Linked DNA regions of Homo sapiens: region 2 is linked to region 1. Evidence: fine-mapped expression QTL. Tissue or cell type: hippocampus. Region 1 holds a variant in brackets; the other region holds the start of a gene. All regions are shown on one strand. Distances are from middle to middle.

Region 1 (2,922 bases):
GGCCACCGTCCTCCACATCCCAGAGTGGTAGATCCACTGACAGCCTGCACTGTAGGCCTGGAAAAGACTCAGGACACTCCACAACTGCCTGTGAAAGCAGCCATGAGGGAGGCTGTACCCTGCAAAGCTATAGCGGCAGTGCTGCCCAAGACCATGGGAACCCACCTCTTGCATCAGTGTGACCCAGACGTAAGACATGGAGTCAAAGGAGATCATTTTGGAACTTTAAGATTTGACTACCCTGCTGGATTTTGGACTTTCATGGGGCCTGTAGCACCTTTGTTTTGGCCAATTTCTCCCATTTGGAATAGCTATATTTACCCAATGCCTGTACCCCCATTGTATCTAGGAAATAACTAGCTTGCTTTTGATTTTACAGGTTTGTAGGCAGAAGGGACTTGCCTTGTCTCAGATGAGACTTTGGACTTGGACTTTTGGGTTAATGCTGAAATGAGTTGAGCCTTTGGGGGATTGTTGGGAAGGCATGATTGGTTTTGAAATGTGAAGATAAAAGATTTGGGAGGGACCAGGGGCAGAATGATATAGTTTGGCTCTGTGTACTCAACCAAATATCATCTTGTAGCTCCCATAATTCCCATGTGTGTGGGAGGGACCTGATGGGAGATGATTGAATTATGGAGGCAGGTCTTTCCCATGCTGTTCTCATGATAGTAAATAAGTCTCACGAGGTCTGACCGTATTATAAGGGGGAGTTTCCCTGCACAAGCTCTCTTAGCCTGCCGCCATCCATGTAAGATGTGACTTGCTCCCCTTGCCTTCCATCATGATTGTGAGGCCTCCCAGCCATGTAGAATTGTGAGTCCAATTAAACCTTTTTCTTTTGTTAAGAAAAAAAAGTTTTAGAGATAGGGTCTTACTATGTTGCCCAGTCTGGTCTCAAACTCCTGGCTTCAAGCAATCCTTCTGCCTCAGCCTCCCAAGTAACTGGGATTAGAGACATAAGTCACTGTGCCTGGATTTTCATTTTAAATATTTATAATATTGTATGTAGGTTTTCATTTTTTGCTCTTGCTGTAGGTCCCACAAATGTGAGGGATAGGCTTGTACATCACATATGCCCATTACTATGATCTTAATATTAATGCCCCCAAAATTTATATGTTTAAAAACCTAATCCCCAAGGTGATGACATTAAGAGGTGGGGCCTTTTTGGAAGTGATTAAGCCATATGGGCAAAGCCCTCATTGGGATCAGTGCCCTTATGAAAGAGGTTGAAGACAATCTGCTGAGCTTGCATGTGTGGGGGTGGGGCCCTGTGGCTTCCCCCTGCACCTCCAGGCCACTGAGGTCTGCATCTGCCCTCTGGAGTTCAACCCTCACTTAGTGGCACAGTATGATACCCTAGGAGTGACC[G/A]GTGCTCCTGGAGGCAGCTGATACATACCTTGCACCTGACTGGGGTGCCTAAAGGGCCAGTTGAGGGATATGAGGAGGATGAACAGTTTCTGAGGAAGATGTACCATGTGCTGCTGGAGGTGGATGTGTTGGAGGGCACCCTGCAGTGCCCAGAGTCTAGACGTGTGTTCTGCCTCAGTCGCAGGGTTCCCAATATGCTGCTGAATGATGAGGAAACTGAGAGTTGATTGTGCCAAGTGCCAGTTTTCCTTCTCATGATCGTGTGAATTTTTGTTGATGTATATCCTGTTTCCTAATTCTGCTACATGTATCCCCAACCCTTGGCCCAATGGCACACCAAACACACCATATTCTTGAGCTCGATAGTATATGTTTTTTCTCATTAAAGTTTCAAACAAAAAAAAAGTAAATAAAAAAATAAAAATAAAAAAGAGGTTGAAGGGAGGTGCCTTGCCGCCTTCACCATGTGAGGATGCAGAAACAAGATGCTATCTATGGAGCCGAGAGTAGCCCTTACCAGAGACCATATCTGCTAGTTCCTTGATCTTAGACCTCCCAGGCTCCAGAACTGTGAGAAATACATTTCTATCGTAAATTACCCCGTCTAAGGCATTTCATTATAGCAGCAGAGACCAACAAAGACAGAAATAGGCACAGAGAGATAGGGTGTGTTAATAACAAAACCTAAAAATGGGAAAGCAGCTTTGGAACTGCATAATAAATAAAGGATGGAAAGAGTTTACAGGTCCACTGCCATGAAAGGAGCCTTAGGGGCAACTCAGGTGAGGGTTCAGAAGAAGGTGAGGTTGAAGAAGCTGTAGAAATAGCCTCCATCTTCTTAGAGATTACCTAAGTGGTTGTGATCAAAATGTTGATAATACAGAAATACAGATGGTAAAGGCCATTCTGATGAAGTCTCAGACAAAAATGAAGGACACGTTATTGGCAACTGAGGACTAGATGATCTCTGTTACAAAGGGGCAAAAGAACTTGGCCAAATCATGTTCATGTTCTAGAAGAAATCTCTAAGCAAAATGTTGAGGATTTTGACTACTTATAATAAAATGTGGAAGCAGAACTTAAAGATTTGGAAAATTCTCAGCCTGGTCATATTGTATAGAGTGGAAAGCTGTGTTCAAGAGAGAACACCAAGGGTGTGGCTAAGTAACCGTTTGATAAGGAGATTAGTACGGTGAGGCAGAAATCAGGTGCTATTTATCAAGATAATGAAAGAATGACACCAAAGGCCTTTCAGTGTTTATTTGTGCTGTCCTTCCTATCATAGGCACAGACTGCCAAGGCTGGGGGCAACATATCTGTATCAAAAGAGGAAGCTTGGAAACCGGTAGGACCTTGACGCCAGGTGGCCTCAAATCTCCACTTCCTGCATTCTGCTGCAATGCTCCTCACCTGCCCCAGGTATGGTTCACGCAGGCCCATGTGCAGTTTGGGCCACTCTCTGGAAGGCAATATAGTAAATCTTGGTGGTGTCTGTGCAGTGCTATCTCTACCAAAGTGCAGAGTGCACAAGTCATGAGGGCATGCCTG
Region 2 (2,922 bases), 28 kb before region 1:
GTTTGATTTTCAAATATTTGGGAGTTTTCTAGATGGCTTAATGTTATTAATTTCTAATTTCATTGAGATATATGATTTCAGTATTTTTACATGTATCGAGATTTTATGGCCTAACTTATGGCCTATCTTGTTGAACATGCCGTGTACATTTGAAGTTGTTGAGGCGATTAGGGTAAGGTCATTATAGTGTTCAAATCTATGCCTTTACTGATTTTTTTCAAGTTTTCTACCAATTGTTAAAAGGGATTTAAACACCTTCACTCATGGTTATGGAATTGTTATTTTTCCTATTTCTCCTTTTAATTCTGTCAATTTTTGCCACATAAATCTTGAAATCCATTATTCGGATTTATGGTTTTTATGATCTTGTCATATAGATATATGATATATATATATTTTATAATCTTAGTCATTACTACTTTAGGTTTCTTATGCTTATTGTTGCATAGTATGTGTTGCGGGAAGTCAGGGACCCCAAATGGAGGGACTGGCTGGAGCCGCGGCAGAGGAACATGAATTGTGAAGATTTCATTTTAATATGGACATGTATCAGTTCCCAAAACTAATACTTTTATAATTTCTTACACCTGTCTTTACTGCAGTCTCTGAACATAAACTGTGAAGATTTCATGGACATTTATCACTTCCCAAATAATACTCTTATAATTTCTTACGCCTGTCTTATTTTAATCTCTTAATCCTCATATCTTGGTAAGCTGAGGATGTACGTCACGTCAGGACCACTGTAATTGTATCTGACTGTACAAATTGATTGCAAAACGTGTGTTTGAACAATATGAAATCAGTGCACTTTGAAAAAGAAAGAATAACCGTGATTTTAGGGAACAAGGGAAGACAACCACAAGGTCTGACTGCCTGTGGGGTCAGGCAGAATAGAGCCATATTTTTCTTCTTGCAGAGAGCTTATAAACAGACGTGTAAGTAGGAGAGATATCGCTAAATTCTTCTTGTAGCAAGGAATATTAAATATTAAGACCCTAGGAAAAGAATTGCATTCCCAGGGGGAGGTCTATAAACGGCCACTCTGGGAGTGTCTGTCTTACGCAGTTGAGATAAGGACTGAAATACACCCTGGTCTCCTGCGGTACCCTCAGGCTTATTAGGATGGGGAAAAAATCCTGCTGTGGTAAATCTGAGGTCAGACCGGTTTTCTGCTCTTGAACCCTGTTTTCTGTTGTTTAAGATGTTTATCAAGACAATACATGCACAGTGGAACATAGACCCTCATCAGTAATTCTAAGTTTGCCCTTTGCCTTGTGATCTTTGCATTGCCCTTTGCCTTGTGATCTTTATTGGCCTCAGAAGCATGTGATCTTGTTCTCCCTTTTGCCCTTTGAAGCATGTGATCTTTGTGACCTACTCCCTGTTCATACACCCCCTCCCCTTTTGAAATCCTTAATAAAAACTTGCTGGTTTTGTGGCTCGGGGCCTCACGGTCCTGCTGATATGTGACATCACCCCCGGAGGCCCAGCTGTAAATTCCTCTCTTTGTACTCTTTCTCTTTATTTCTCAGACCAGCCGACACTTAGGGAAAATAGAACCTACGCTGAAATTTTGGGGGCAGGTTCTCTTGCTAGGTATGTATTTTTTTCATTTACTTACTTCCATTCTTTTAATGTAATTTTTCACCACAATCCAGACTCTCAGTAATCCTTTCCTTGCTTTTGTTTAAAGATTTACTCCAAAAATGTGGCCTATAGTTTTAGTTCAGCAAATACAAATTTGAAAGATTTATTTATGTGTATTTATGACTAGTTTCTAACGACATTATGTTTATAAGATTCATCCAGGTTATTGCATGTAGTTGTAATTCATTTATTTTTATTCTCTAGAAGAAGAATTGCTGGGTCAAAAGTTATTCATATTGTCACATTTATTAGACAATGTCCAATTGCTTTCCAAAGTGGTGGTACCAATTTATATTCCCTTAGTAGGGCTTGAGTCTGAGTGATTCACTTCCTAACCAACTCTTATTTTTGGAATTTTTAATTGTTGCCAACCTTTTAGGTATGAAATACACACCATGATTTTAATTTGCATTTCTTTGATAATGAGATTAAGCCTTTTCCCATAAGCTTATGATTGTGTCCTATTGTCTGTTAAGTACCTGTTTAAGACTTTTTCTCATATTCACCTGAGATTTTTAGACATTACTTTTTTAGGAATATTTTATGTATCCCAGTTAATAATTCTTAATCAGTTGTATCTGTAGCATAAGTCTTGCAAGGTAGTAGCTTAATAGTTTTCAAGTTTTTTATGGAGTATTTGGCTGATCAGACTTCCTTAAAATTAAGTTGAATTTAAGTTTCCTTTAAGTTTGCACTTTTTAAATGCTCTATCACCTCAAAAAAGATCCAGTACTTTTATGGAGATAGTCCTTTTATTGTCATGTAAAATCCTACTAACACTCCGTTCTGTAGCTATTTCAAGAAACCATGTGAATTAGTTGAGGAGGATTAGTAGGAGATTTGGTCCTCCCCAAATTCTGAAAGTGGGGCTTGAGTATTTTATTACTCATTACTGTGATCACATTTGTAGTTTTCATCTTTTGTTGTCTCAGGAAAGAAACCATTTGCAAATGCAGAGCCCTCCAGAAGTTACCTTGAGTATTTTATTGCAGAAGAAAAATATGCCCTAATGGTGCCAATAGGGGTCAAACAACTTCTATAAAGAAAATTATTAAAATAATGTGAGTAAAATGTAGTGGCAATCCCTAAGAGGGACGGATTTAGAGAGAACAGAAAATGAAGAGGGAAAATAGTGATACATTTATTGGGTTCAATAACTGTTAAAAATTAATAGGAAACTAGAGCAAGAGGTATGTGGTGACCTAGCACTTAAGTTAGCTCTGTTATACTTCCAAAGGCATATTTGAGGTTTTGGCCTTCTGGGCAAGTTTT

The links. PIP is the estimated chance that this variant, and not a neighbour inherited with it, causes the effect.
Region 2: it holds the start of BAAT, and the variant in region 1 is the best candidate, but not a certain one, in a credible set for the expression of BAAT in hippocampus (GTEx, PIP 0.52).

The regions. Positions count from the first base shown.
Region 1 is chr9:101,355,145-101,358,066 of GRCh38, reverse strand. It overlaps the pseudogene TRMT112P4. Among named protein-coding and RNA genes, the nearest start is that of BAAT, 28 kb to the left of the region's middle. The variant G/A (reference allele first, on the strand shown) is at 1,375.
Region 2 is chr9:101,383,532-101,386,453 of GRCh38, reverse strand. BAAT (bile acid-CoA:amino acid N-acyltransferase) reads left to right here and starts at 1,448. Exons shown (of 4, transcript NM_001701.4): 1 at 1,448-1,599.